4 linked regions of the Homo sapiens genome follow. The protein of the gene in region 1 purifies or fractionates together with the protein of each later gene. This does not show direct contact. Each region holds a gene or a part of one and is shown on either strand. Other genes may lie near its edges.

Evidence for each region.
Region 2: the proteins of BDH2 (region 1) and ZCCHC9 purify together in Homo sapiens (affinity purification with mass spectrometry; one large-scale study listed by BioGRID and IntAct). This does not show direct contact.
Region 3: the proteins of BDH2 (region 1) and POLA2 purify together in Homo sapiens (affinity purification with mass spectrometry; one large-scale study listed by BioGRID and IntAct). This does not show direct contact.
Region 4: the proteins of BDH2 (region 1) and MPP1 purify together in Homo sapiens (affinity purification with mass spectrometry; one large-scale study listed by BioGRID and IntAct). This does not show direct contact.

What each region holds. Positions count from the first base shown.
Region 1 is NC_000004.12:103,076,990-103,084,514, reverse strand, and holds the end of BDH2 (dehydrogenase/reductase SDR family member 6), read left to right. Parts: intron 1-1,585; coding exon 1,586-1,644; intron 1,645-2,341; coding exon 2,342-2,434; intron 2,435-4,759; coding exon 4,760-4,813; 3' UTR 4,814-6,923; downstream 6,924-7,525. UniProt on the Homo sapiens protein: NAD(H)-dependent dehydrogenase/reductase with a preference for cyclic substrates. Catalyzes stereoselective conversion of 4-oxo-L-proline to cis-4-hydroxy-L-proline, likely a detoxification mechanism for ketoprolines.
Region 2 is NC_000005.10:81,302,043-81,310,196, reverse strand, and holds part of ZCCHC9 (zinc finger CCHC domain-containing protein 9), read right to left. Parts: exon of another isoform or gene 8,142-8,154; intron 6,988-8,141; exon of another isoform or gene 5,994-6,987; intron 5,457-5,993; 5' UTR 5,440-5,456; coding exon 5,056-5,439; intron 1,637-5,055; coding exon 1,486-1,636; exon of another isoform or gene 1,252-1,485; coding exon 1,159-1,251; exon of another isoform or gene 1-1,158. UniProt on the Homo sapiens protein: May down-regulate transcription mediated by NF-kappa-B and the serum response element.
Region 3 is NC_000011.10:65,265,349-65,273,502, forward strand, and holds part of POLA2 (DNA polymerase alpha subunit B), read left to right. Parts: intron 1-1,233; coding exon 1,234-1,358; intron 1,359-2,128; coding exon 2,129-2,220; intron 2,221-3,323; coding exon 3,324-3,381; intron 3,382-8,154. UniProt on the Homo sapiens protein: Accessory subunit of the DNA polymerase alpha complex (also known as the alpha DNA polymerase-primase complex) which plays an essential role in the initiation of DNA synthesis.
Region 4 is NC_000023.11:154,783,851-154,792,004, reverse strand, and holds part of MPP1 (55 kDa erythrocyte membrane protein), read left to right. Parts: intron 1-157; coding exon 158-236; intron 237-936; coding exon 937-1,022; intron 1,023-1,982; coding exon 1,983-2,051; intron 2,052-5,604; coding exon 5,605-5,801; intron 5,802-6,847; coding exon 6,848-6,954; intron 6,955-7,896; coding exon 7,897-7,977; intron 7,978-8,154. UniProt on the Homo sapiens protein: Essential regulator of neutrophil polarity. Regulates neutrophil polarization by regulating AKT1 phosphorylation through a mechanism that is independent of PIK3CG activity.

The sequences.
Region 1 (7,525 bases):
GGACTTATCAGGAGATTGGAAAATATGTTATCAAACTCTTTGGAACAAGGAACTAGCTGTGACTCAGTGAACCAATCACAGAAGAAAACTTGAGGAGGACTGAGTATGTCTGAGATGCTGCTGATGGTTGTATAGTCACAAATCTCCAGCCAGACTTGTGTAGACCCTGGCATAGTATGTCTGTGCCATGGACACAGCTGAACCCAGTGACATTGGAATACTCTAAAGGCATGGGCTTGCTCTACAGTTCTTATTTAATAGCCATTAGTACCAGTCATATGTAAGATATGATGTTCATTTACCTCAGAGGGAGAAAGCTATTAAAGCTGTAAGATTCTGAAGGAGTGTTAGTGAAAGCTTGAGGTGCACACTGTTGGTAAAACTGTGGACTTTAAGGAGGCTATTGAGGAAAGTGAGGAAAATATTATTGAAAATTAGAAAAAAGAGTGTCTTTGTCATACAGTTTCAGAAAGTACATCAACACTGTTGCCTGTAGTGTGAAGGTAGAAGATGTTCCTAATGAACTGGGTGATCTAATTAAGGTGATTTCTACCCAGAGTCTTGAAAGTGCTGGCTGCTTATAGTAAAATGTGACAAGAGACAGATAACCAACCTAAAGAGGGGGTTCCAAAATGGAGTCAGGCTTTCTGATTTTGAAGATTTCCAGCTTCATCAGAAAAAAATAGCAAATGATGCTAAAATTAAGAAATGTTTTCTGAATAAAGATCAAATCTATGGCACTCTCAGGAACATGATCTAAGGGTGAAGTATGACTGTAAAACCATTTGTTACAACCTCAGAAAGATCACATTATTTGCCAGAGTACTCTTTAGTCTGAAAAAGGGCCCTCTAAAGAGAATGAACAGTTTATGTCCGTTAACAAAAAAGTCTGGGTAACGTGCTCTAGGAGACCATAAACTAAGTGGAATTTTAAAATGTTAGCGTTGTTCTTATTTTTCTTTTTTAAAGTAAAATAACTTTAAATTAGATTAAATTATATTTTTGATTAAAAACTTGAAACTGTGGTTAAAAGTAGGCATTTGAAACAATGAAAATAGGCAAGGTGATAAGAAAAATTTAGCGCCACCTGAATTACCAAGGACTATGGTAGCCATGGGATTGTCCCCAAAGATGCCACAGTGAACTTGACAGCAAAGAATGGTTTTGAGATCATTGAGGCAAACTGGCTCCTTAAGCTGGCAAAGTGCTTGTACGATTTTATCTACATCTCAGGGTTATTGTGAGGATTAGCTGAGATCATATGCATAAATGTATTTAAAATCCATAAAGCATCATATAAATGCAATGTGACTAAAATATATGTCCTTGAGAATGCTGGGTGATTCATCCAGAGTCCCTACATAGTGTCACGAAGAATCATAGTCTGTGTTTTTAAAATCATAGAAATGTTATTGAAGAAATTATAAGCCTATTAAATAAGAGGCCTCAGGCAGGCAGCTGTAAAGTTGTCATTTTAAGTCAAGGAGAAGAATCTCACTGATTGTCATATGGAAAGGAAGTTTAGTTATCGATTTCTTTTTCAGTGAAAGTGAGTAACCAAGCTGAATATCCCCCTTTGATTTAGGAACAGTTGATACGCCATCTCTACAAGAAAGAATACAAGCCAGAGGAAATCCTGAAGAGGTACATCTAGCATTTAAAATGTATTTAAACCTTTTGTTAATAAATGCCCTCTTCCATACCTATAGCAGACAAATTCATAGAGACAGAAAGTGAAATGGTAGTTGCCAGGGGCTTGGAAGGAGGGAAAAGAGTAGTTAATGCTTAATGAGTAGAGAGGTTCCATTTTGTAAGATGAAAAGAGTTCTGCTTGGGAAGCTGAGGCTGGGGGATCGCTTGAGCCCAGGAGTTTGAGGTACAACAGTGAGCTATGATCACAACACTGCACTCCAGCCTGGGCAACAGAGCAAGACTCTGTCTCTAAGAAAAAATAATAATAATAAAAATAAGAGTTCTGGAGATGGACAGTGGTGATGGTGGCACAACAGTGTGAATGTACCTAACACTATTGAACTGTACACTTAAAATGGTTAAGATAGTAAATTTTATATTCTGTATACTTTACCACAACTTTTGAAGATGAAAAAATAATGCCCTCATCCTTTAACATTAGCTTTCTGATGTGTCACAATATCTGTGGGTTTTAGTATAACACAAACAATTTGAGTAACTTTGGCAAAAGAATCACCATAACCCTAGTTGATTATTCATCAAGGCAGCAAGCCAGTGGATTCTCTTGCCTTTAACTCCTTGAACAAGATGCAGGTGAGCACATACAGCTGCTTCCATCACTAATGTCTGGTATGGTCTCTGGTCACAGGCACGGAATGATTTCCTGAAGAGACAAAAGACGGGAAGATTCGCAACTGCAGAAGAAATAGCCATGCTCTGCGTGTATTTGGCTTCTGATGAAGTAAGCACTATTCTTCCCAAGGAGTTCATTACCCTCAATCACATTTGGCCACAATTTGCTCATCAAAATAATATCATTTTAGAGAGTTTGTGGCATATATGTGCTAAGATGCTACATTTATAAGATAGGGATAAGTTCTCATTTAATTTGCTCAAAGAAAGACCACTTCGATCTGAGCCACTAATTCTTCCTTATTCAGCTTTACATAAAATCTTGTAGCAAACAAAATGGAGGACTAAAAAAGTTAAAGTGCTCAATTTTCTGAGAGACAGTTCCTTTCAAAAATTATAATTGGGGAAACCCTGATTAAATGCAAGTCAAAAAATTGAACCTCCAGGATTATAAGAGCTCTAAGTGAAATGGGGAGAGGATTAAGCAGATTTGTGTTCAGTGGACACAGAATTCGCATGTGGTGTTTTAGTTTTACTTGTGACTTGTTTGGGAGAATTCCACTGGCTCTTTTTTCTCTATTAATTCTTACTTGTGGCCGGGCATGGTGGCTCATGCCTGTAATCCCAGCACTTTGGGAGGTCGAGGCAGGCGGATCACCTGAGTTCAGGAGTTTGAGACCAGCCTGACCAACATGGTGAAACCTCGTCTCTACTAAAAACAGAAAATAGCTGAGCGTGGTGGCGGGCGCCTGTAGTCCCAGCTACTCGGGAGGCTGAGGCAGGAGAATCGCTTGAACCAGGGAGGCGGAGGTTGCAGTGAGCCGGGATTGCGCCACTGCACTCCAGCCTGGGTGACAGAGTGAGACTCCGTCTCAAAATAAATAAATATTTTTAAAAATTCTTACTTGTTCATCATCGTGTATGGAAATTCCTAATTTAATCTCTTCCACTTTGCATCTGTTTAACAGTTTTTTCCTTAATAACTATTGTTTACTTTTAAATGGCTTAAGATGAAAGCAAAAATGATGCTTATAAGGTATAGAGCACAAGAAGGTCCTCCTCTGTTTTATGTCTCTGAATACTACAGGAACAAGGAACTGTAATGTGTGAGAAGAGGGAAGGAAAGGGGACTAGGCGGGAGCGAGGAGGGAACAACTGATAGCTCCTCTTCCCAGTAACTTGGTGCACACCAGATAGTTGGTGAATGTGACAAATACAGGGATTGAAATGTTTCCGTGACAGCGCAGTTTCTTCTCAGAACTTCTCCCAACTATTAACAACAATTGTTAATAGCTGGGGAAATTAATAGACAAATGTTTAATGAAGAAGCACATGAGCCTTTGTGATTTCTCTGAATCCGTATCTTCAGAATAGCTCATTTGATTTGGGTACTGCTGATAAGCTAAATTACCCTTAGTTAGCCAGAGCTTAGGTTACAAGATATTTGGAAGTGTTGTGGCTTGAAATGTGCTACAAAAGTACCTTTGGCTTTTTAGAGGTTTCCAGAGGAGTTCATATGTGTAACAGAGCTTGTCTTTTAAAAGAACTTGGGGGAGTTGGAGGTATTTCTTTGGTGAAGTGACTAATAACTCCCTAGTTCACCTACTGTATATTATCAGCTTTTATCTATTGAACTCTTAAAATTTCTCTATTCATTATGATATCCTTACTTCCTCTTCCATTGTTTCAGGCTTCAGATGAATTTAGACTGTTTGAGTCTTTATTATCCATTTTAAGTTAAAAGATTTTTAAACTTCTACCAAAAAGATCACTTCAGCCTTATTTAGAAAATGAAAAATTTATGGGAATAAACCAGTAATTATTTTTTAAATTCCTTAGTTTTATAAAGATTTGGATATCTGAAACTAATATAGAATATTTTTATAGCTTAATGGATTATAGTTATTATCATTCATGTAAATTTTTAAAACACATTTAGTGTGCTTCAGCTCCTACAATTATCCACTTATAATTGATCAACTAAATATATGCTGTCTTTTTTAAAAAACTGGTCATTAATATGACCATTTTATGACTGATACACTTATGTTCAAAAGTTTATTAGTGGCATAAAACTTAGCTAGTTTTGAATAGTTCTGAGTTTCAAAATGAAAATGTGCTTTTAGCCTATATCCTAATTTGGGGAATGGCTATACATCACTGTTCCTTAATTTGGGGATTCTGAGACCAAATACCTAACAGTGACAGGTGCTTAGACACCAGCCAGAGGCCATTTAGTTCCAGATCACAGGACACTCAGCAGTTCTAAATCAACCAAATGTTAATTTGGATTTCCCTGAATTAAGTGTTTAAGTGAGGTTTCCTGTTAGGACAAGGGTAAATTGTTTAGTTATCCTAGTCACAGGAAAATTTCAAAATACAGCCTGTATCAAACCTGGTTAATTGTTCTGTCTCCTTGTGTTTATCACTGCAGTCTGCTTATGTAACTGGTAACCCTGTCATCATTGATGGAGGCTGGAGCTTGTGATTTTAGGATCTCCATGGTGGGAAGGAAGGCAGGCCCTTCCTATCCACAGTGAACCTGGTTACGAAGAAAACTCACCAATCATCTCCTTCCTGTTAATCACATGTTAATGAAAATAAGCTCTTTTTAATGATGTCACTGTTTGCAAGAGTCTGATTCTTTAAGTATATTAATCTCTTTGTAATCTCTTCTGAAATCATTGTAAAGAAATAAAAATATTGAACTCATAGCAGGAGAATAGTTTTTAAAATAAATCTCGATTTGTTAGCATCTGTCTTAGTCACTTTGGGCTGCTATAACAAATTACCATAGATGGAGTGTCATAGACAACAAACATTTATTTTTCAGTCTGGAGGCTAGGAAGTGCAAGATAAAGGTGCCAGCAGATATAGTTTCTGGTTAGGGCCCACTTCCTGGTTTGCAGATGGTCCTCTTCTTGCTGTATCCTCACATAGCAAGAGCAGAGAAAAAAAGCGAGCGCTCATGTGTCTTTTTATAAGGACACTAATCCTGTTCATGAGGGCACTACCCTTATGACCTGATTACCTCCCAAAGGCCCCACCTCCTAATGTATCATATTGCAGGTTAGGATGTCAACACATGACTCTGGGGTGATACAAATAGGCCATTGCAGCATATACAATTAAAATGTAAATATGAAGAAAAAAGGAAGTTTTTGTTTTTTTGTGGGGGAGATGGGGGTTAAGGAAGAAGATAGTAATTTCAGGACTAGGCATGGTAGCTCATGCCTATAATTCCTGCACTTTGGGAGGCCAAGGCAGGAGGATCACTTGCGGCCAGGAGTTCAGGACCAGCATGGTTAACAGAGGCTAAGGCAGGAGGATTACTTGAGCCCAAGAGTTTGAGGCTGCAGTGAGCTGTAATCATGCCACTGCACTCCAGGGTGACAGAGCAAGACCCTGTACCTAAATAATAATAATAATTTCCACTTCATTTTTCAATATTCAAATATTTTTATATAATTCTGCATTGTTCTGTATGTAGATCCTAATTTTAAAATTTTACACCATCATAAATGAACAAAGGTAGGAAGGAGTTTGGCTTCAATAGCTTACAGTAAAAGGAGTAAAGGAGTTCAGCCTCAAAACGATATTGTTGACCTGTTATGTTATGAAAAATAATCCAGTGTTTATACTTAACGGATGCCATCCCTTATTATTTACTATTTTCTTAGTCTAACTAAACAATCTTTATTAAAATAAGCAATGATATTTGACATGGGCCTAAGAAATATATAGTTAGCTAACAATATTGTCAGTTAGAGGGATTTCTTTTCTAAATTAAGTACAGATTTCTTCACCAAACTCCAGGATAACAGAAAAGAGGACATAAAATTTGGACATAGTTTCTGGATAAATAAATGTAAATTTAAATATAAATTATGTAACAGGAAACAAACGAAATTAAAGAAAATAAATTTTTCAAGAAAAGTAAATTTATGGATGTTAATTCTGTAACATTGTCAGGGCAAAGTTTTTTGTTTTTATTTTAATTTAAGGGTTTTATGTTTGTTTTTTACTTGTTGCAACCTCAAATGACCAAATGGTATGATGCACACTGAGATACTCAATAAATGTGCAGTGATTCTTAGCCTTTTTTCCTAGAACTTTAATATTAACATGGAAAATTCTGAAATGGACAACAAAAAGATAACACTTTGTGTATGGGGAAGAATATCATGCAGTTGATGACGGTACATTAAAATTCACACAAAAGGACATTTTGACTAGCATTCAGAAAGAGTCCATTGATTATAAGATTATCTATGAGGTTTTGGACCGGGCACTACACTACCGAATTATGGCTAACTTTGGTTTGTGATCTAGACCAAGTCACCCAATCTATCTTGGATTTTAGTTTTCTGGTTTATGAAATTAAGGAGTTAAGCTAAATGACTTGGGTTTCTTTTCGTGTATCATAATCAAAATGCTGTAACTTCTCTAGTGAATTCATAGAACACTGACTCTTACAAGTATGTCATGAAATACTTTATGCTGTGAGCAGGTATACATGTATAATATATGTATAGCTATGAACAAATAAATTTTAAATAAATGCACAACGAATTCTACAAAATGGGCTCCAACATTAACAAATGATCTGAGTTAGTCTTTCTCACAGCCGACCATAAACTATAAAACATTTTTATAAACACTATCAGCAATAAAAACGAAGTAAAATCTAGCCAAAAAATTCAATGTTCTCCAAAGTCATGTTAATCAAATCAGGTGATATATTAATGAAGTACATATGACTAAAAGGAAAAATATATGTCATTCCTGTGGTAAGAGGAAGCTGAATGTCACTAGAAATTTTTACAAGCTTTAGGAGAGGAAGAGTTCCGTTTAGGAAAATAATCATTTCAGATGATCTGAAGAAGGGTATTGGATGGAACCTATCCAATAGGTTCATCACAAAAGAGGACCTGAGAGACAAGAATGAATGGTTTCTGACTGGTGGAGAAATTTGAGGATAATCTCCCTTGCTTGAAAAGCGGTGATTAAGATTGGCACTTGCTTACAGGAGTGAAAAACAGGTAAGGGGTGCGCGCGTCTTAACACACACAAGAGGAAATACAGAGAAAAGGAAGACACAAACATGAAATGAGAATTAAATGAAATAGAATCACACTGCTGATAGAAGGGTTAAAAATCTAAAATACAACAAGAAGGGCAGGTGTTAAGCGATAAAGGG
Region 2 (8,154 bases), on another chromosome or scaffold:
CTCCTTGCTGCATTAATTTTTTTTTTTTTTTTTTTTTTTACAGCTAGTCACTTTGGTTGACCAGTGAAAGCCATTTTTGCTCACTAGTCATGTTATCTACCCAGTTTTATAAGCTCAAAACTGAAATGCACCTGAGCATTTTCCAGGCCCTGGCCTCTTTATATGCCATAGTGAAAGAGAAGCACTTGAATAATACATTTTAATCCTTATAAAAATTCTTTAGGCAAATACCATAATTCATCAACTCTAAGACACCACTGATTATAAGATGTATCATTATTGCACATACCTCTCAGAAAGAAAAACAGCTGTCAATTATATGGGACCCACCAACGGTAAGATACATTCTGATTTCCAAGAGATTAAAATTGAAAAACTGTGCATCTTAGAATCAATAAAATATAGTTTTATCATCTCCACTCTATAGGTGAGGAAACGGAGATCAGAGTTTGGTAGTTGGCCAAAGCCCCCCAGCTAGTGAGTGGCAGTGCTGGCGCTGTAACCCAAGTCTGACCAACTCCAAAAGCTATGCTTTTTCACTGGACTTCTCCAGGAGGGAAACCCAGGACATGACACAAGAAACGTCTAGAGCCTGATGGCACCAGCCATCACATTAACAGATAACAACCTCCGCCTTAAAGCTTTAGACCGCATAGACTTTACTGTGTGAACCTTAATTACCCGAGTTAAAGAGAAAAAAGCTACATGATCCCATACCAGACAAATAACTAAGAAAAAAAATTCAGAAGCAAACATTACTACAATATTGAATCATCTGTACCCACCCCTCCACCAAAATGATATGCTGGCTGAGGCTGAATATATAATACGATTTTAAAAACCTCATATTAGCTTGAGATATAATCTCTCTGCTTCTGTTATGTCTAAAAGTAGAAATGTATGACATAGTCTCACAAATGATGAAGCAAGCACAGTTGGAAATATACACCTTAGTTTTTTCTGATTTGTTTTATTAACATCTGAAGTCAAATTGCACAAAAAGCCTAGTACATATGATAGCACTTGATAAAAATAATGTAATTCTCAAGGTTTTGCAATTTATTCAAGAATTTATTCAAGAACTGTGATTGAGTGTAAATTAAATCACAACTGCACGATGACTCACCATTTCTGCTATATGAGGGTAACAGTACTTACCATCAGCATAGAGTCCTTTGGGATTATCAGGACAAGATCTAGACAGGTGCCCCATTTCTCCACAAACAAAACATTTTGCAAAAGGAAATTCGCCTGTAAAAATCAACAGTTCCTATTCAGTTGACAATACATATGGCAAGTCATAAAATTAACATTATTTTAAAATACTCTGAATAAAAAATATATTTACATAACTTAAAATTTAATCTCATATGATTTCCAAATACTAAGTGGCACACTCGTAACAAATTGTGTTAAAAAAATACCCAAGGTGCTATTTATTGGCTTTCCCCATGAACAAAACAAAAAACTGAAAGAAACACATACCAAGAGCCGGGTCTACTTTAGCCTTACACTTGGTTATTTCGTGCTCTGTGGACCCACACCTGTAACATATCCCAGTGCCCATGTCTTGATTTTCAAGGGCGGCGGGGCAATCTGCAATTCCATGACCAGGTTTTCTACAATGGAAACACACCTAGGAAAACAAAACGTAGGTTGGCACGCTGCAAAACTATACCAGTGACTTTATTAATTCTTGTTATCAAAAACATATTTAAAACATTTCTCATCTTATTAAGCTATTTTTCTGAAATCTCAATATTTGTAGAAAAAAGCTTTCATACGTTCCTAAACAACGAGATATCCTTTCCATCAGAGGGTTTCATTGCTTTTGAAAACCTCAATCAATAAATCCATAAATCTCAGGAACAATGTTATATATGTGGCTTTGTAGACGGCAATTGCTTAAATGAATTGAGCAAATATGGACTATTCATTTTATTAACTGGAATGTCTGCAGTAGAAAAATGGCATTTTCTATAGGAAATGGACAGTGGCTATAAAAACTGTCACTCAAAATTTGTATTTGTATATAATTATGTACTCAAAATTTTAAAAAATTAATATTTCTTTTAAAGTTCACATAATTGAATGAATTTGGGTCAGACATTTCCATTCAAATTATGATTCAAACCATAAGATAGATAGATAGATAGATAGATAGATAGATAGATTTTTTTTTTTTTTTTTTTTTTTTTTTTTGAGACGGAGTCTTACTCCATCACCCAGGCTGGAGTGCAGTGGCCCAATCTCAGCTCACTGAAAACTTTGCCTCCTGGGTTCAAGTGATTCTCCTGCCTCAGCCTCCCAAGTAGCTGGGATTACAGGTGTGTACCACCACCTGGCTAATTTTTGTACTTTTAGTGGAGACGGGGTTTCACCATGTTGGCCAGGCTGGTCTCGAACTCCTGACCTCAGGTGATCCACCCGCCTCGGCCTCCCAAAGTGCTGGGATTACAGGCATGAGCCACCACGCCTGGCCATAAGATATATTTCATAGCAAAAAGTATATCCTTGTTTTTTACCCTAAATACTTTTTTGTTTTTTGAGACAGAATCTCGCTGTCACCAGGCTGGAGTGCAGTGGCGTGATCTCGGCTCACTGCAACCTCCGTCTCCCAGGTTCAAATGATTCTCCTGCCTCAGCCTCCCAAGTAGCTGGGATTACAAGCACGCACCACCACGCCCAGCTAATTTTGGTATTTTTTAGTAGAGATGGGATTTCATCATGTTGGCCAGGATGGTCTCGATCTCCTGATGCACCTGCCTCAGCCTCCCAAAGTGCTGGGATTACAGGCATGAGCCACCACACCCAGCCATACACATTCTTTAATATTCAGAAATAGGTTTCATTTTTAGAATATATGCACAATACATTTTAAAGGAATAATTTATTCCAAGATGAATTATTTGGCTCCAACATAAAACTGAGCAATGGTTAGTTGTTTACAGAAATTTGAAGAATTTTTTTGCTGCAATAAATGAGAACATCAACCATAATCAAAGATGGCAGATATTTAAACTATTTTATTTAAACTGGAAAAAGATATACATATTTCTTGGATAATAAATAGTCATTTAATTATGTTTTTTCAAAATAAGCACAGGTTTTTTTAAAAAGCAAATTCAACCAGCAAAATAAAACATTTATTTTGCAACTGTCCTTTTTTTCCTACTTAATAAAATATTGAAAAAGAATGAGTCCCTTTAAATTCTTCAGTAACTTGTACATTTAGAATGAGCTGGTCCAAAAAAAAGAAGCTGTATTTATTATACAAATGCAGGAAAAGCTACTGCTAAAACCTGCATCACCACCATAAGAAGTCTTGGCTTCTTGGTGAAGTCAAGGTGGTCTCTACTAAGCTGAGACTACTGCCTTAGTTCACTGCCTTCTCTTTTAAAACCTAATCATCACCTAATACAACATTTTTGAATGGTCCTTAAGTTTAATGTAGATGGGATTGTGAAGCACTGATTGTAAATTTCTATAGCATATCATTTTATTAGCATTTAAGGACCGATGCTTAGTATAAGGTATTAAAAAAATACCAAGGAAGTAAATTTAACAACAGGTCATAACAAGCCATATACTATTTATATAGCACTCCCCTTTTTAAAAAACAATATCCTTCCCCACTTAATTACAAACATAATGCTTTTCTTAAGCGGTCATAACAGTAAATGTTTTCAAATGGTATGTGATTCACCATACCGCCTATGTCAACTAAACTAAAATGACTTAAAATATTTAAAAATCGTTAACTTACACAAAACTCTATCCTGATACCAACAGAAATGTTATCCTTTCTATTCAAATTTATCCATAAGGAATGTTTCATCAGTATTATCTCTAAATAACTATCTTTAAATATAACAATGCATAGACTAATCTTGCAAACAGCCAAAAGACACATTTATAGAGGCTGTTAACATTTTAAGCCTGCAATGGTGCAAACAGTGCTCTACATATAGTAATACTAATAAAAAATAAAAGTATAATAACTAGCAACAAGTCCTCATTCTTATGAAGTGGTGTACTAGGAGGCTTGGGAAACTCACTTAGAGAAGGGAAATAATTATACCAAGTATTTCATCCCCTTTGCCTGACATACTTTAAAATCTAGGGCTAGGCATTAGAGAAAGAAACCTGCTGCCCCCAGCATTCTTCTGAATGTAATATGGGGGAGGGAGGAAGCAATGACTAGGGAGTCTCAAGGACTTTCAATTCTGCTATTACTCTGCTCTAACTAGTATGACTCCTATGTATCTCTTTCCTGTGCTTCAGTATTTCATAGATAAAGAACATCCTTTCCAAGTAATAGGGACCCACACACATTTAACCTGTTCTACTTCATCTTCTTCATAATTTTGACATTTTCTCAATGCTAATTTGAAAAAGGGGCTATTGGAAGGTGAGGATAGGTTTTGGTTTTTTTGGAGGACGAACTCTCGTTTTGTCACCCAGACTGAAATGCAGCGGTTGATCACATGGTTCACTGTAGCCTCGACCTCCCAGGCCCAATCCTCCTGCCTCAGCTGGCAGTAGTAGCTGGGATCACAGGTGTGTACCACCACACCTGGCTAATTTTTTTTTTTTTTTTTGGTAGACATGGCGTCTCCCTATGTGGCCCTGGCTCGTCTTTAATTCCTGGGCTCAAGTGATCCTCCCGCCTCAGCTTCCTAAAGTGCTGGGATCACGGGCATGGGCCACCACATCTGGTCTATAACGTAGGTTTTGAAGTCAGGCTGGGTTTGAATGTCACCTCTGCTACTAGCTAAGTGGCTTCCACAGGTTATTTAATCTATCTGCACTTCAGTGTTTGCCATCCATAATATGGGAATATATGCCATCACCTTTGCTGTGTTGTTGTAATAATTAACCAGTACATCATGTGCCTAGCATATATGTGCTAAAAAAGTACTAGTCCTTAAAACGATGCTCTATAAATCTGGGACATAATGGTAACCAGAGCTGGCTAAGGTATATATGTGTGTGAATATAAGAATAGTTTCCAGCTAAATAAAGTAAATAACATGGTAGAAGTGATGCTCTCACCATTGCATTTTTCTTTGCCGCTTGTCTTTTTAATCTTCTTCCTTCCCGTCGACTGTCTTTCTTTAAAGCAACTGCAATTTCTTCCCTTACTTCCTCACTGTCTGTTGCTATAATTTGCCCATTGTGAACCATCTGTGAATTCTGTCTTAGGTATTCCATGAATCCATTCACATCTTCATTTAAGTACTCTTTTTTCTTTTTGTTCTTTTTATGTTTTGCTTGGGGTGCATCATTTTTGAGGGATAGCCTATTGGCTTCAAGTTGTTTACGCTTTGGTAGGTTTTGGCTTGTTCCCTCAAAGGATCCCTTCTTCATGTCCTCCCATGATGTTGCAGGCAAGGGTCTCTTGTTATATGTGGTACTAACTCGGGCCCACCTGGTCATAATTTCATCAGTGGTACCTTATCAATTTTTAAGACAAGCATGGGTGGTTAGCCATCAACAACAAAAACAACAAAACTAAAGAGACATGCTATATCACTATATGTCACATATGCCCATATGTTAAACTTTTAATTATTAAAACACTTTTTATTTCAGTTAGATATCTGTATACATATTTAATGCTATAATATGCTGCATAGACATGCTTCTAACATAAATCTACCACTTACCAGAAAAGCTGCCACACCAGTTAAAAAAGGTGTGCTTAAAATTGAAAAACTATCTTAAGAAACCAAATTATTTCATAAAATATAAATCAGATAGTAATACAATGAATGCAATTATTCCTCCCACATTCTGCAGTTTTCCCGGCTGTTTATTTTCCTATCTCCAAGTCCCACAGCTACTTTCTCCCAATCTTCTTGCTTCGTCTGCCATTTCAATGCAACAATTTGCATAGCAGATTACTAAGTATACAGAAATCATGTCCTTTAATATGAAGTTTGTTGAAATTTCCTGGCAAAGTTATAAGTAAAACATATAAAAGTGTTTACCATCACAGGATGATCCCGGGCTTCCTCTTACTAATCAAGGTATAAGCTACTTCCAGCCCAGTGATTTCACATCATCTTCAATTCTATTTAAATTATGACTTGAATCATAAGATATATTTCACACCAAAATCTGTATCTTGTTTTTATACTCTTAATACATATGCTTTAATATTCAGAAATAACTTTTCATTTTAGAGCACATACATAAAGAAGTAATTTATCCTAACACTAATGATTTGGCTCCAACATAAAATGGAAAAAAGTTTTGGTCACTTACATACTACCTAGTGATTTGGAGGATATTTTTTTCCTGCAATGAATGAGAACATTCAGCCATAATCAAAGATTCATCAGCTAGTCACATGCTACATAACATTTAGGTCAACAGCGACTGCACACATGATACTGGTCTCAGATGATTATAATGGAGCTGAAAAATTCCTATTGACTTTGTAGCCCTCATAACTTGTAGTGTAACACATTACTCATGTCTGTGGTAATGCTGGTGTAAACAAACCTGGGATGCCAGTCATATACAAGCATAATGCTTACAATGATGTACTGTACATAATACTAGACAATTATAAGTATTCCAGAAAAAAGCAGTTATTATAGGAGATGACAGCTCCATTCATGTTACTGCCCCTGAAAACCTTCCAGTAGGACAAGATGTGGAGGAAGAAAAGAGTGATATTGATGCTCCTGACCCGGTGTAGGCACAATGTGTGTGTCTTAGTTTATAACAACAAAAAAAATTTTTACAGGAAAAAGCTATAGAATAATGTAAGGGAATAAAGAAAATATTTTTATATAGCTATACAACACATTAGCATTTTAAGCTAAGTGTTATTACAAAAGAGTGGGCCGGGTATGGTGGCTCACGCCTGTAATCCCAGCACTTTGGGAGGCCAAGGCCAGGTGGATCACAAGGTCAGGATATCGAGACCATCCTGGCCAACATGGTCAAACCCCATCTCTACTAAAAATACAAAAATTAGCTGGGCGTGGTGGCGCACTCTTGTAGTCCCAGCTACAGGCGCGCACCACCTGGGAAGCTGAGGCAGGAGAATCGCTTGAACTCAAGAGGTGGACGTTGCAGTGAGCTGAGATTGCGCCACTGCACTCCAGCCTGGGTGACAAGAGCAAAACTCTGTCTCAAAAATGAGAGACAGAGAGAATAAACTCCGTCTCAAAAAAAAAAAAAAAAGGTCAAGGAGTTAAAATTAATTTAAAAGTTTATAAAGTTAAAAAAGCACAGTAAGCTAAGGTTATTACCTTATTTTTAATAAACTTAGACTAAGCATACCGCATTTATAAAGTCTACAGTAGTGTACAGTAATACCCTAAATAATATCGTAGGCCTTCACACTCACATACCACTCACTGACTCACTTAATAGCTACCGACAGCCCTGCAAGCTCCATGCGTAAGTGCCCTATTCAGCTGTACCATGTTTTCTTTTACACTATATTTTTACAGTATCTTTTCTGTGTTTAGATACACACCATCCTTTTACAACTGCCTACAGTATTTAGTAGTTATACTGTACAGGTCTGTAGACTAGGAGTAACAGGCTATCCCATACGGCCCAGCTGTGTAGGTTTGTGCAAGTACACTATGATGTTCACACAACCACGAAACGGCCCAACCATTTCTCATAACTATACCAGTTCTTAAGGGGAGCATGGCTGTATTAAGCCACCACCTTTTTTGTTGTTGTTGTGGTCGTTGTTGAGACGGAGTCTCACTCTGTAGCCCAACCTGGAGTGCAGTGGGCGATCTTGGCTCACTGCAACCTCTGCCGCCAGGGCTCAAGCGATTCTCGGGCCTCAGCCTCCCGAATAGCTGGGATTACAGGCGCGTGCCACCACGCCCAGCTAATTTTTTGTATTTTAGTAGAGAAGGGGTTTCACCATGTTGCCCAGGGTGGTCTCGAACTCCTGAGCTCAGGAGATCTGCCCGCCTCGACCTCCCAAAGTGCTGGGATTACAGGCGTGAGCCACCGCGCCCGGCCTAAATTATCACCTTTTAAGACCAGCATCCCTGGCAACCCCCCAAGTCTCAGCTCCTAGTAACAGAAAGACCCCTTCCACAGAAGCTGAAGGGTGGACCCAATGAATTGGTGTGAGAAACTCCATGCCACTTTACCAGCGCACTCTTC
Region 3 (8,154 bases), on another chromosome or scaffold:
TCACCATGCTAAAACCAGTGATGAATTTTCAGTCCTCATCTTGAATTGAATTAGCACCGGCACTTGACACTGTTTGTCATTTTTTCTTTTTTTAAACACATTTTTCTTTTAGCTTCTTAGACACTACTAGTTTTTCTTTCTTTTTTTTCTGAGACAGGGTCTTGCTCTGTTGCCCAGGCTGGAGTATAATGGGCAAATCACAGCTCACTGCAGCCTCAACCTCCTTGGCTCAAGCAATCCTTCCACCTCAGCCCCCAAGTAGCTGTAACTACAGGCACATGCCACCAAGCCCACCTAATTGTTGTATTTTTTATAGAAACGGTTTCACCCTGTTGCCCAAGCTGGTCTCAAACTTCTGGGTTCAAACAGTCTGCCCACCTCAACCTCACAAAATACTGGATTACAGGCGTGAGCCACTGCATCCGGCTTACTCCTAGTTTTTCTTCAGCTTTGCTTGTGTCACCGCTTCTCAGGCTTTGCCGATTCATCCTCAGAGGCCCTAAGGCGCCCCAAGACTCAAGCCTGGGATCTTTTCTCCCTTCTAGATACGCTCACTCCCTTGGCGATCTCACCTGGGGTCTCATAGCTTTATATCCCATGTATTTACTGATGGTTCCCAAATTTATACCTCCGCCCACAACCCTTGCCTGAACTACAGGCTGGTTTGTTCAGCCTGCTGTCTCCAGTTGGATGTCTAAATGGCACCTCAAACTCTGCATGTCTAAAACTAAGCTCCTGGTATCTCCTCTCTCTCCTCAGAGTAGTTCCTCTGGCTCTTTTCCCCATCTCAGTTAATAGGGACGCCACTCTTCCTGTTGCACAGGCTAAAAATATCAGCATCATCCTTGACTTTCTTTTTCTCATACCTTACATTCAGTTAGCAGATCCCACTGGCTTCACTTCCAGCATGTAAAGTCCTATCCAGAGTCCAGCCACTTCTCGCCATCTCCACTGCCACCACCTTGATCCAAGCCACCATCATCTCTCACCTGGGCTTTTCCATGATTCTTTAATTGGTCCCCCTGATTCTGCCCTTATCCTCTTTTGTCTCCCCTCAGTGGTGAGCTTTGTAAGGACAAGGATGCTTCTGTTTTCTCATTGCCCAAAACAGTGCCTGGCACTAATAGATTCTGAATAAACATTGATGGAGTAAACCAGGATTATTTTTGCTTTTCTAGGTGAAACTTCGAGAAATGAACTAAGTTTTTACTTGTCCAATTTTCCTTTCTACAGTGGTAGAGCTTTGTGTTCAGTATGGACAGAATGAGGAGGGAATGGTAGGCGAGCTTATAGCCTTCTGCACCAGCACACATAAAGTTGGCCTTACCTCAGAGATCCTGAACTCTTTTGAGCATGAGGTAAGAACAAAATGAAAGCAAACTAATAATGTGATTCTCCATTTCTGCTCTACAGGGGAGGCATTGTGATATATTGAGAGGAGTGTGGGCTTTCGAGTCAGGCCTGGATTCCAGTCCCAGTGTGAGCTTGGACAAACTATGTCCCTGAGCCTCAGTTTCCTTTTCTGACATTGGGTCTAATAATCTGTATTTTTTATGATTGTTATAAGAATTAAATGGGGCTGGGCGCCGTGGCTCATGCCCATAATCCCAGAACTTTGGGAGGCCGAGGCAGGCAGATCACAAGGTCAGGAGTTCAAGACCAGCCTGGCCAACGTGGTGAAACCCTGTCTCTACTAAAAATACAAAAATTAGTTGGGCATGGTGGCAGGCGCCTGTAATCCCAGGTACTCGGAAAGCTGAGGAAGGAGAATCGCTTGAACCGAGGAGGTGGAGGTTGCAGTGAGCTGAGATTGCGCCACTGCACTCCAGCCTGGGACAGAGCGAGACTCCATCTCAAAAAAAAAAGAAATGAGAATGGACATAAAGCACTTAAAACTATGCCCAGCAGGTGATAAGTCTTCACCAAATAATTGGTATTATTAGGATTGTTATATGTTATAGACAGTCATGGGATGTCTTTGTTTTTAGTCTGTGTGTATCTTAATTCTTTGAGGAATGTTAGATCTTTGATTATATTTTGAATACCTTTTATTATCTCAAGGCTTTTGAAAACACCTCTGCTATTACTTGACTATGAAGTACTGTATTCACTATCTTTTCTTTTTCAGTTTCTGAGCAAAAGATTATCGAAAGCCAGGCATAGTACCTGCAAGGACAGTGGCCATGCAGGAGCTAGAGACATTGTTTCCATTCAAGAGCTGTATCCTTTTCTGCTGAAGGTCTTTGCACCAAGCTACATGTTGTATTTTATAATTTGTCTGTAGTCGCATGTGTAATTTAAAAACAAATAATAAGGCCGGGCACGGTGGCTCAGGCCTGTAATCCCAGCACTTTTGGAGGCCGAGGCAAGCAGATCACTTGAGCCCAGGAATTTGTGACCAACCTGGGCAACATGGTGAAACCCTGTCTCTATCAAAAGTACAAATTTTTTTTTTTTTTTGAGTTGGAGTTTCGCTCTTTTTGCCCAGGCTGAAGTGCAATGGTGCAATCTCAGCTCACTGCAACCTCTGCCTCCCAATCTCAAGTGATTCTCCTGCCTCAGCCTCCTGAGTAGCTGGGATTACAGGTGCACACCACCACACCTGGATAATTTTGTATTTTTTTTGGTAGAGACAGGGTTTCACCATGTTGGCCAGCTGGTCTCGAACTCCTGACCTCAGGTGATCCGCCTGCCTAGGCCTCCCAAAGTCCTGGGATTACAGGCGTGAGTCACCGTGCCCGGCCAAAGTACAAATTAAAAAATAATAATAATAAGCTGGGTGTGGTGATGTACGCCTGTAGATCCAGCTAGTTGGTAGGCTGAGGTGAGAAAATCTCTTGAACCTGGGATGTGGAAGTTGCAGTAATCTGAGATCAGGCCACTGCACTCCATCCTGGACGACGAGGAAACCCCATCTCAATAATAATAATAGTAAAAATTGCCTAATATTGAGATTTCTTCTAGCAATCAGCCCTTGCCTTATATGAAAGTTTATTATTATTATTATTATTTTTTTTTTTTGAGATGGAGTCTCGCTGTGTCGCCCATGCTGGAGTGCAGTGGTGTGATCTCAGCTCACTGCAAGCTCCGTCTCCTGGGTTCATGCCATTCTCCTGCCTCAGCCTCCCGAGTAGCTGGGACTACAGGCGCCCGGCTAATTTTTTGTATTTTTTTTAGTAGAGACGGGGTTTCACTGTGTTAGCCAGGATGGTCTCTGTCTCCTGATCTCGTGATCCGCCCATCTCGGCCTCCCAAAGTGCTGGGATTACAGGCATGAGCTACCGTGCCCAGCCATTATTGTTTTTCTTAACCAGTGTTCTTAGAATTGAAGTGGAAGAAGAAGAGGAAATCCTCTTGAACTCTTACACCACACCTTCAAAGGTAAGTAAACAGTGTTTGGACATTGCATTTTACAAGTAACATTTTAAAATAGTTTCACAACATTTGAAGATCTGAGGGAAAAAATCAACCACTCTCATGCATTTCCTACTATATTTCCACTTATACATCTTCCTTTCTGATCATATGTCTAAATGTTTTACATAATGGCAGTCCTTATAAACATATAGTTATCCTGCTTTTCTCAGCACAACATAAAACATTTCTATAAACATAATTTCTCCATAATTGCCCTTTTTGAATAGTTTCATAGTTTTATACTATAATTGAATAATTCAGTTCTGTGTTGGATCCCAGTGTGAAAGGTCAAGTAGGGTAGTGGAAAAGCATTGCCTTCAAAGTCTGAGTCAGAAGACCTAGGTGACCTGGAGTGAGTTGTTTTATCTCTCTGAGACAGTTTCCTTATCCATAATATCAGGATTCATTCATTCAGTTATCCAGCAACAACTATGTGGCCAGGCGCAGTGGCTCATGCCTGTAATCCCAGCACTTTGGGAGGCTGAGGCAGGCGGATCACGAGGTCAGGAGATCGAGACCATCCTGGTTAACATGGTGAAACTCTGTCTCTACCATAAATACAAAAAAAGAAATTAGCCGGGCGTGGTGGTGGGCGCCTGTAGTCCCAGCTACTTGGGAGGCTGAGGCAGGAGAATGGCGGGAACCTGGGAGGCAGAGCTTGCAGTGAGCCGAGATCGCGCTACTGCACTCCAGCCTGGGCGACAGAGCGAGACTCCGTCTCAAAAAAAAAAAAAAAAACAACAACAACAACTATGTACTGCACTAGACATTGAGTAAACAATGGTGAATGAAACAGACATGGATGGGCTCTGCCCTCAAGAAGCTGACAGCCAGTGCACAATATCCCCCATCTTGGAGGGCTTGAAGAGGAAATAAATAGGTAAAGTATCAGGCCCTATGCAATGTATTCAGTAATGGTAACTATTCTTTATACTAACTAAATAAGTTTGTAGACATTCATAAACATGGAGTGAGCCTTAATTATTCAAAGTAAACTACATCATAAGAAAGAGGTAATTTACATTGCCCTATGCAATGTATTCAGTAATAGTAATTATTCTTTTTTGTTGTTGTTGTTGTTGTTTTGAGATGGAGTTTTCCTCTTGTTGCCCAGGCTGGAGTGCAATGGCACGATCTCGGGTCACTGCAACCTCCGCCTCCCGGGTTCAAGCAATTCTGCCTCAGCCTCCTGAGTAGCTGGGATTACAGGCATGCGCCACTACGGCCAGCTAATTTTTGTATTTTTAGTAGAGACGGGGTTTCACCATGTCAGCCAGGCTGGTCTCGTACTCCTCACCTGCGGTGATCCACCTGCCTCGGCCTCCAAAGTGCTGGGATTACAGATGTGAGCCACCGTGCCCAGCCCAGTAATTATTCTTTATACTAACTAAATAAATTTGTAGAAATTCATAAACATGGAGGGAGCCTTAATTATTCAAAGTAAATTACATCATAAGAAAGAAGGTAAGGGCTGGGTGCAGTGGCTCATGCCTGTAATCCCAGCACTCCGGGAGACCAAGGCAGGAGGATCAGTGACCAGAGATCATGCCGCTGCTCTACAGCCTGGATGACAAAGTGAGACCCTGTCTCAGGAAGAAAGAAGGTAAATAGTTTAGATATGCCTGTGGAGAGTAAGAGGGCCAAAAATGTGCCCCATGAAGTTGCTAACACAAAACCAGGTGCATATAATATTAAAAGAAATAATTAGGTGTTTGTTAGAGTTTCTTAAAATTGGAGAGACTATAACTCATTTGATTTTCCTCCTAAAGTGGTTTTCTGAGTCCATATCCCAGTGAAGGACACCTCCGTTCTTCCATTGACTCAGGCCAAGAACCTTGGAGACCTCCTTAAATCCTTTTTCTCTCACACCCCACATCCAACTTAGCTACCAGTCCTGTCATCCCTCTCCAGGATCTGGCCACCTCTCACCATTTCCACTGCTACCACCAGGTCCACAGCATCATTGTCTCCTGAATGATTGGGACAGCCTCCTAACTAGTCCATTGGCTTCTTTCTGCCATATCCACCTCTAACCACCTCTCCACCCAGCAGCCAGAGTGCTCCTTTCCAGCAAAAGGTCAGGTTTTCTTGCTCACATCTCTCCCACTGGCTTTTCGTCTTTCCTCCTGATATGCAAAGTTTGAACCAGCATATGTGAAGTTCTGTAGGAGCTGGCCCCCTCCTCCTTCTGTCCTCTTTCCCTGCTCCCCTTTGCTCTCTGCTTCTGCCGTGCCAAATATGGGTTCATTTCCTATGTCTCCTTGTCAGGGAACAAGCCTGCCTAAAAGAACAAAGCCCTTCTTCTGTTTTATTTTCTTGCTTTATTTTTCTCCTTATTATTCTCTTGCTTTATTACCACCAAACATGTTATATACTTACTTTTTTGTTTTAGTCGGCCTTCCCTCCATTAGATGGAAGCTCCTTGAGAATAGAGACTTTGTTTTTACTTGCTGCTGTTTTCCCAGCACCCTGGCATGTTAATAGTTGTTGAAAGATCTCTGAATAAGGGAGTGTGGTTGGCTCTCTCAATTGCAATACCAATGGGACCACCACGGTTTTATCTGGTTAACAGCTTCACAGATCCAGAATTTTATGTAATTTGTCTGTGTATCCAGAATTGATCATATTCCGGAGTCTGACTCATGGTAACCCAGCTGTCAGTAGACTGATGCGTAAGCCAGGTGCAAATTTGTTTACTTTACTATTGAAGTAGATACCCTTCCAATGACTGAAATCCCATATTTAGGATACCCCATTCCTGCTATGGAAATACTTAGGAGACTAAATTGTGAATCAAAGTTTGTGACTGTGAGGCCGAGTGCAGTGGCTCACACCTGTAATCCCAGCACTTCGGGAGGCTGAGGCAGGTGGATCACTTGAGGTCAGGAGTTCGAGACCAGCGAAACTCCATCTCTACTCAAAAAATTAGCTGGGCATGGTGGTGGTGCCTATAATCCCAGCCACTCAGGAGGCTGAGGCAGGAGAATCGCTTGAACCCGGGAGGTGGAAGTTGCAGTGAGCCAAGATTACACCACTGCCCTCCAGGCTGGATGACAGAACCAGACTCCGTCTGAAAAAAAAAAAAAAAAAAAAGTTTGTGACTGTGAATTCCACGCTAAATGAGTTGGAGTGAAATGTTGAGCAAACAATATGTCCAGGCTAGAGATACGTAAAATGCTTAGAACAGTACTTATCACATGGAAATTGTTCAGTCACTGTTAGGCCATGCATCAATGGCAGCATGATAAAATAGTCAAAGTGTGGCCAGGCATGGTGGCTCACACCTGTAATCCCAGCACTTTGGGAGGCCGAGGTGGGAGGATCACTGGAGGTCAGGGGTTCGAGACCAGTCTGGCCACCATGGTGAAACCCCATCGCTACAAAAGTACAAAAATTAGCTAGGCATGATGGTGGGTGTCTGTAATCCCAGCTACTCGAGAGGCTGAGACAGAAGAAACACTTGAACCCAGGAGGCGGAGGTTGCAGTGAGCTGAGATCATGCCATTGCACTTCAGCCTGGGCGAGAAAGTGAGACTCCATCTCAAAAAAAAAGAAAAGTGTGAATGTTGGCCTTTCCATACAAACAGTGCCAGGCTGAGGTTGCCTGACCCTTGTCAGGTCTTGGGAACAGGTGTCCCTCTGCTATAGAGGTAAATATGATATGTCAGTGATTTTAGCTTATCACTATTAAATATTTCACCTGTACGATTGACAGCTGTTCTTTTGCTTCCGTGTTCACCATAAATCTGCTGATGATTTGGCTGCCATGTCCCTAACGGAGAGAATGTGTTAGCCTGAGGACTTGACGTTCCCATACCCTTGGCAATTATATTTCTAGTAAATTAATAAACTGGCATCCTTGGTTATAATTTGATTTTCTCTGTGAGTGTGAGAATGTGCTTACCCTAGGATATGAAAATATGGTACCATTGGTGACTACATTTCTGATTAAAAATGATGAAACCGGCCACTGCGGTGGCTCACGCCTGTAATCCCAGCACTTTGGGAGGCTGAGATGGGTGGATCACCTGAGGTCAGGAGTTCAAGACCAGCCTGGCCAACATGGTGAAACCCTGTCTCTACTAAAAATACAAAAATATTAGCCGGGCGTGGCAGCGGGCGCCTGTAATCCCAGCTACTCGGGAGGCTGAGGCAGGAGAATTGCTTGAACAGAGGCGGAGGTTGCAGTGAGCTGAGATCGTGCCACTGCACTCCAGCCTGGGCAATCAGAGCAAAACTCCATCTCAAAAAAAAAAAAGAAAAGATGAAACTAGCCAGGCGCAGTGGCTTATGCCTGTAATCCTAGCACTTTGGGAGGCCAAGGTGGATGGATCACCTGAGGTCAGGAGTTCGAGACCAGCCTGGCCAAAATGGCAAAACCCCATCTCTACTAAAAATACAAAAATTATCCCGGCATGGTGGCACATGCCTGTAATCCCAGCTACTCAGGAGGCTGAGGCAGGAGAATTGCCTGAACCCAGGAGGCGGAGGTTACAGTGAGCTGAGATCATGCCACTGCACACTCCACCCTGGGCAACCCTCCGTCTCAAAAAACAAAAACAACAACAACAAAAAAACATGATGAAATTGGCATTAAGTGTTAATAATGAATCGTATGAGCTTGGTTAAAGGGAGCGCATCCTTGAGAACTGGTACTGGAGTTGGTGAACACTATTGGATTTCAGCCCTGAGGCTGAGGACTAGAACACCAGACTGTGCCTTGTTTACCAAAGTGCT
Region 4 (8,154 bases), on another chromosome or scaffold:
AATTCCTCCTCAAAGCAGGCTTCATGCCTGTTCTAGTTGAGGACTATCCTGGGTATAAATGGAAAATATTTTCCTGAGAAATTACCGTAAGTTCTTTCTAAAATAACCTCAGAAAGAGCTTAAAATAAAGCTTATTGTGCCGTCGCCTTTATTTCAGGGAATCACGCTGAAGCTGAATGAAAAACAGTCCTGTACGGTGGCCAGAATTCTTCATGGTGGCATGATCCATAGACAAGGTACTCTGTGGGAGCTCTGGGTGGGGTTTGATTCAGGGATTAATAATTTACTCCCTGTTCAGTGGTGTGGGGCATGAAGCTTATAATCCTCCAAACTGGTAGCATTTTTGTGAGTGTGCCAAGAGACTTTTTGTGGCTTAATAACTGGCTCTGTAGAATCAGTACATGATAAGATCTCTATGTGAATTGCCCAGTGCCACCATCTCCCTATCTGAGCCTTCTTTCACACCTATTTATACCAATATTTTTCTAGTAAGTTAATATTTGAGCAATTGCCACATGCCACCCATTGCATTAGACTTGGAAAGGACAGCAGTACCACTTGGTAGCATTTTGGGGTTTGAGCTAAACAACAAAGAAACATGGAGCTTGCTGGTGAAAGAGGAGTACTGAGTTCTTTGCCTTGCTTTGTTATTCTTTTTAGTGTATACATCTGTGTCATAGTCTGGAGTCAGTAGCCACTCTAGTTCCAGGAATTTGAGGACAAGGTGTTTTATTGTGCTGTTGGACTACTGAGGCCAAGGAGGATGAGACCATCTTAAACTGTCAAGTCAAATGTTTTCAATCCTGAGTATTTGACACAATCTGTTTCATAACATGCTGTAAATCCTGGTTTCTCTTCTATGGTATCTTGAGTTACATTGACAGCTCCTGTTTGAACTTTTGTTCTTTTGTGGATTGATTTTTCATTTCATGGCAGGCTCCCTTCACGTGGGGGATGAGATCCTAGAAATCAATGGCACAAATGTGACAAATCATTCAGTGGATCAGCTGCAGAAGGCGATGGTGGGTATTTTCTATGCTAGATGAAGACCTTCCATTGTCTCCATAAGTGTTGATCCACATTGGTATCAGTGACCTCATCTCTCTGTCAAAGTATTTGTACCTTCTTGAGGGGGCTCTTTTCACTGCTAGTCTTTAATCTGTGTAAGAAATGATAATTTTCTGCCTTTATTTAGTAAAATTCTAAAGCAGGGCAAATAACCCAGAGCATCAATCTGGTGTTCCATGAAGTAATGCCAAATGAAGTAAAGCAAGCTATAACGTATATAGTAGAATCCCATTTTTGTTAAAAACAAACAATACATATGTATGCATAATGTATGTAAATATTTGTAATGCTTTTGTTGGTATGGGGAAAGGCGTGGATATATATGCGCCATAGTTCATTTTTAGGAACTTCTTCAGGACTTTTTGGGGTAAAGAATGGGGAAGAAAAGTCTTTTTTTTTTTTTTTTGAGATGGAGTTTCGCTCTGTCACCCAGGCTGGAGTACAATGGCGTGATCTCGGCTCACTGCAACCTCCGCCTCCTGGGTTCAAGCGATTCTCCTGCCTCAACCTCCCAAGTAGCTGGGATTACAGGTACCCACCATCACGCTGGCTAATTTTTGTATTTTTAGTAGAGACAGGGTTTCACCATGTTGGCCAGGCTAGTCTTGAACTCCTGACCTCAGACGATGCGCCCACCTCAGCCTCCCAAAGAGCTGGGATTACAACAGGCGTGAGCCACCGTGCCCAGCTCGGAAAAGTCTTTAGTTAGCTTTTCTTTGTTACTCTTTGCATGTCTTCATATTGTTATGCTGATTTATGGGGCACATGACACTTTTGTATTAAAGGAGGAATTGTCCTACAAAATCTCAAAATGTAAAGATGGTTGTTGGGGAAAAAAACCTGGGACTTTGAATGAATGATCACATCATTCAACTTAGTTTTCTGTACAATTTTATGTCCATTTTTTTTAATAGAAAGAAACCAAAGGAATGATCTCATTAAAAGTAATTCCCAACCAGCAAAGCCGTCTTCCTGCACTACAGGTGGGTGGCACCATTTTCTCTGTTGTCATGATGGCAGGAGTCGGGCCATGTTGTCTTATATTCTTTGAAATTTGATTATAAGGGATGTGAGTCTAACTTTAAGTTCTAAGTATCTCGCAAGTGTGTAGCTGCTTGGCTCAGGGTCCCATTATTCCCTGCCTGGTATAAAATACAGGAGCTCATTCCCCTTTCCTCAATGGAGAACATAGTGACGACAGGAGTAGAGAATGAATGAGCCTTTGCTGCTAGTGGTCAGGTAGGAAGGGAGAGGGTAATTTTATTCTACAGATGGTAAGGAATCAATACAGCTCCAAGAGGAAAATGGGTAAAGGGAATGAAGAGATCATTCACAGGAGGAAAACTACAAATGAGCATTGAACATATGAAAAAATATTTTATCTTACCGATCATCAAAGAAATGCAAATTAAAATATGCATGAGACACCAGTTTTCACCAAGCAAATTGGCAAATACTTTTTAAAATAGCAATAATAAAGCCCCGTGATTGATAGTGGCAAAGTAAAGAAAGAAACAAAAGATAGATAGAATCTGTTGAGCACTTATTCACAATTTATTGAGGGTCTACCATGTACAAAGTACTGTGCTAGAACATGGAGGTGATATAAAGAGAAATGGTTCCCAGTTCACACATAGCTCATCAGCCAGTAGAGGAATAGATTGGACAGGGCCATGGCAAGTCAATGTGGAAGAAGGAGATATTTAAAAGAATAAATCTGAAGTTTCTATTGCAGGTTACTTGTAGTGTGACGGTATAATTTTCTTAAGTAAACTTTTAAATTGCAGTTTTGGCATATATGGGCATATATTCAACAAAGGGCACAAATCACAAGTATAAAACTGGATGAATTTTCACAAACTGAGTACACCCATGCCTAAGACCGCCGCCCCCTCACCATGCGTGTTTCCTCAAGGCCCACCATAACCCTGACTTCTAACAGCAGGGATGAGTTTTGCCCCCTTTTGAAATGTATTAACGTTGAATTATACAGTATGAATTCTTTGGTGTCTTATTTTATTCGCTCAGTATTATGTTTATGGGAATCATCTATATTGCTTCATTCTCATTCATTCATTGTATGAACATGCTACAATTTAATCTATTCTGTCAGCTTTTTTGGTCTTACATTGAATGGCTGCCATTCACCAAACAGGATCTAATTCAGCAATATGAGAAGATTTACTGCCTGAAGGGCAATAAATTCACCACGTTAACAGAAAAATGGAGAAAAATCATATGATTTTTGTGCATGTGTTTTGTGGATACATCTATGCCTTTCTTTTGAGAGTAGAATTGCCAGGTTGTAGGATATATGTGTCTTCATCTTTAGGTGATATTGCCAAATAGTATTCCAAAGTTGGTGAACCATGTTACATCCCCAACTGCACAGTATGACAGTTCTGGTTGTTCTGTATTCTCACCAATACTTAGCATTGTCTGATTTGTTGGGTTTTTTTTCACCCTTTGGCCATCCTGATGGTGGTATCACATTGTGATTCTAAAAATTCTCTAATGACTAATGAGGGTAAACTCCTTTTTATATGTTTTTTTCCACTTGGATATCCTCTTTTGTAAGATACCAATTCAAGGCTTTTCTTACTGATTTGTAGCAGTTCCTCATATATTCTGGATAAGAGTCCTTTGTCATATGCATCCCAAGTATGTTCTCTTCTTCTGTGGCTTATTTTCTTCATGGTTCCTGTTAATGACTAGAAACTCTTAATTTTAATGAAATCCAATCTACCACTTTTTTCTGATTAGCACTTTTTATGTCTTGTTTTAAAAGTTTTTACTTACCACAAGGTCAACAAGATATTCTCCTGTGTTTTCTTCTAAATGCTTACTTGTTTGATTTTTCACATTTGGATCCACAACCCATCTGGGATTGATTGTTATATACATTGTAAGGTAAGAGGTCAAGATTCCAGTTTTTCCATATGGATACCAATTGAACCAGTATCATTTACTGTACACTGTCACTTTTGTCATGGTAATATTTACAGGTCTATTTTGGAACTTTTTATTCTTTTCTTTTGGACTGTTTGTTTATCCCTGTGTCAAACCTACATATCAGTTTGGATAAAAGAGGCATCTTCACAGTATCCCAGTGGAAGTGATGATAGCAGACATCTTTGTTTATTTTTCCATCTTAAAGGGAAAGCTGGCCAGGTGTGGTGGCATGCGCCTGTAATCCTAGCACTTTGGGAGGCCGAGGCGGGTGGATTGCTTGAGCCCAGGAGTTCGAGACCAACCTGGGTAACATAGCAAGACCCATGTCCTTTGAAAAAGGCAGGGAAAGCTTTTAATCTTTCACTGAGAAGTATGACGTTGGATGTAGGGTTTCTGTAGGTATTCTTTCTCACAGTAAAGAACCTCCCTTCTATTCCAAGTTTGCTAAGAATTTTAATCTTGAATGGGTTTTGAATGTTATCACAGGCTTTTTCTGCATCTATTGAGGGGATCATATGATCTTTTTCCATTTTTATGTTAACGTGGTGAATTTATTGCCCTTCAGGTAGTAAACCTTCTTATATTGCTGAACTAGATCCTGTTTGGTTGTGATTTATTATACTTTTTATACATAACTAAATTTGACTTGCTGATATTTTGTTTGGGGTTTTTACATCTCTGTTGCAGAGAGAAATTATAAGATTCTTGTCAGATTTGGGTATCATGCTTATAATGAGTTGGGAAGTGCCATCATTTTCTATAATCTGTTTTCGTATGAGATTAGCCTTCTTTCTTCAAATGATGCTTGGAAAATTTGTCAATGAAGTAATGAGGTAGGTGTGTGTGTGTGTGTGTGTGTGTGTGTGTGTGTGTGTGTGTGTGTTTGGGAGCAGGAGAGGAGAATTTTCAATAATAAATTCAAGTTCTTTGATAGATATGAGTGTCCATATTTTCAATTGTGAAAACAGTTGTTCAAAGAGTAGCTGCCCTGTACTGAGACAGACGACCCAGATCCAGCAGTAACTGTGGACACGTTGACGTGGAAAGATATCTCATGCCTTCTTTTTTTTTTTTTTTTTTTTTTTTTTTGAGACGGAGTCTCACTCTGTCGCCCAGGCTGGAGTGCAGTGGCACAATCTCGGCTCACTGCAAGCTCCACCTCCCGGGTTCAAGCGATTCTCCCGCCTCAGCCTCCCGAGTAGCTGGGACTACAGGTGCACGCCACCACACCCAGCTAATTTTTGTATTTTTAGTAGAGACGGAGTTTCACCATGTTAGCCAGGCTGGTCTCCAACTCCTAGCCTCATGTGTTCCACCCGCCTCGGCCTCCCAAAGTGCTGGGATTACAGGCGTGAGCCACTGCGCCTGGCTTCTCATGCCTTCTTGTTAAAGGGATTCATTCTGACCCCTCCGCAAACACAATCACTTCAGCGTTTCAATTTCTCTTTCTTGGGTGCTCCCCCACCATTCTTACCTCCCTGTTGTTCATTCCATCCTGACCCCATTTGTCTACAGCAGGACATGCTCTGATGCTGGTGTTTCTTTTGAAGCTGCCGCCTGCAGTTCCTTTTACCTTCTTTTTAGATGTTCATGAGAGCGCAGTTTGACTATGATCCCAAAAAGGACAATCTGATCCCTTGCAAGGAGGCGGGACTGAAGTTTGCTACTGGGGACATTATCCAGATTATCAACAAGGATGACAGCAATTGGTGGCAGGGACGGGTGGAAGGCTCCTCCAAGGAGTCAGCAGGATTGATCCCTTCCCCTGAGCTGCAGGAATGGTGAGCCATTTTTGTGCAGGTGGAAGGGCCATGTGCCTGCCACAAATAACTTAGCTTCAGAAAATCTGTCATTTTGTTTGTAGTTTCTGTTTCTCAACCAAGGAGACCTCCTAGATTTCCTGGCATAATGGGTGGGGGAGGGTTAACCATGCGTTGATAAGCTGGACTGAGAGGCAACCACAGGCAAGGGAGCCCAAATAGCTCTTCATTCTTATGTGGGCCTCTTGCTTCCTTAAACGTTTTCCCCATAGTTACCAAGCACGTGACAGTGCTGGGACTGAGCCCTCCCTGGTCTCCTGTTTCCCAAGCTAGTGCGCTTCTACCAGCCATGCTGTTTCTGGGATTTCCTTGGAGTCCTGCAGAAAACAGTCGCATTTAAGTATGTGTCCTTTAGGCACATTCCTGGTACATGGAAGAAATAATTCCTGTCCCCGAGTCAGATTGCTCACTTAGTCCTGGTTACATCATAGGAATGGCAGAAAAATTCACAAAACAGTTCCAACTGATAAGACATCCAACACTGAGCCTCCCTCTGCCTGTGCAAACTTACCCCAGTGTAAAGATTACAACCATTGTGGGGTTGACACTGAATAGAAATATTAGAATATATTACATGTAGTAATACAAGTTATTGTTTTGTGAAGCAGTTGTTTTAGATATATATGTGGGGTGTGTGTATGTGTTTTGTTTATAGATGTATGTGCAATAATGGCTTGCAATGTACAGTGTATTTCTTAGAGTGAGGTAGGGTCATAAAGGTTTGAGACCTTTATGGTCTAGACCAAAGAAAGAGAGTTGTTTGTGGGTTGTGTCCAGAATGTGCTGACAGGTACTAGATGACACAGACTCAAGGAGCCAGGTCCCTGACTGAGGGCAGGGCACAGTGCAAGATGCACCAAACAGTGTATGGGGTGCTTTGCACACATTATCTCCCACTGTAATGGACACTCAGAGAGTGAAGGGGGTGCCATTAGAGACTGAGTGGCTGGGGGGGGTATGAGGGGAGGGGGAGGAAAGCTGACCCCTTGATTGTCTTTTCCTACCAGGCGAGTGGCAAGTATGGCTCAGTCAGCTCCTAGCGAAGCCCCGAGCTGCAGTCCCTTTGGGAAGAAGAAGAAGTACAAAGACAAATATCTGGCCAAGCACAGCTCGAGTAAGCTTTCTGAGCCTTCTTGCCCCAGGTTCCTGGCAGCATTCACGTGTTTCCCAGTCTCTGTAACCAGCAGAAAAGGGGAGGTGGTGCAGTGCGCAGCAGAAGGCGCATTCTACAGAAAGCATGTCATTTCTTCTGGTTTCTTTTTATTGAATCCATCTTCACAAGCTTGCTGCAGTCAGGCCAGTGGATGTAAAGGAGGACTAGTGGTGAGCCCACACCTGCTCATCACCCCACCCCTCACACAGAAGTAGATGTGGTGGGAGAGGGGAAGTGAGGCAAGAACACAGGCCAGAGGGAGAGGCCAGGGCCAGGTCATAGGGAGCTTCGTGCACCCTCCCTAGCGTTTTAAATTTTGCACTATAGACTGTGGAGCTGGTGAAGGGTTTTGAGCAGAGAATTCGCACGGTCAGCTTTCCATCTGCATTTCTCTTTTCTGAGACGTCACGTGCACACCACCAGCCAGGGAATGATCGTGGCAGTCTTGGGTTGTAGGCAGGTAAGGGGGTGGAGAGTCAGGATGACACCAGGTCTCTATCTTGAGCAGCTGGGTCAATAGCACCACCATCTTCTAAGATAAGGGACATTCAGGCAGAACCGAGATAGCATTGGCATTCTTCAGCTCTAAGTGCCAAGGGAACATCTGATACTGAAACTATGGAGAAGAGATGAGGACAGGAGACAAGAAAAGTTGGCTCAGAGAGATAGGGCAAGGAGGAAGAGAGGGTGCAAAAGTTAGATAAACTCCCTTGCTCAAAATTCCCTCACCACACTAAAAATACAGTCCAAAGTCCTTCCTCCACACCAACCTCCCTCGTCTCATCTCTAGTCACTTCCTCCCTGCTTGTTGAGATGTCGCGAGGCTGTTTCCCATTTCAGAGTGTGGACCACTGTTCTCCCTAGCTCTGGAAATGAACACTGCTTGGTTTTCTTTGTCTCTAGTTTTTGATCAGTTGGATGTTGTTTCCTACGAGGAAGTCGTTCGGCTCCCTGCATTCAAGAGGAAGACCCTGGTGCTGATCGGTATCTTCTCATTGCCCCATTTGCACATTTCTGTCTTTGTTTTCCTGCCTGCATCACGTGCCCACCCCCAAAAAAGGCAGTGAGGAAGAAAAGAACTGAGGTCTCTTGGGTTCTCCATATAGAGCAGGTGTAAGGAATTTTCTGAATCCTCACGTGCACCCCACCTGGGTCCACCTC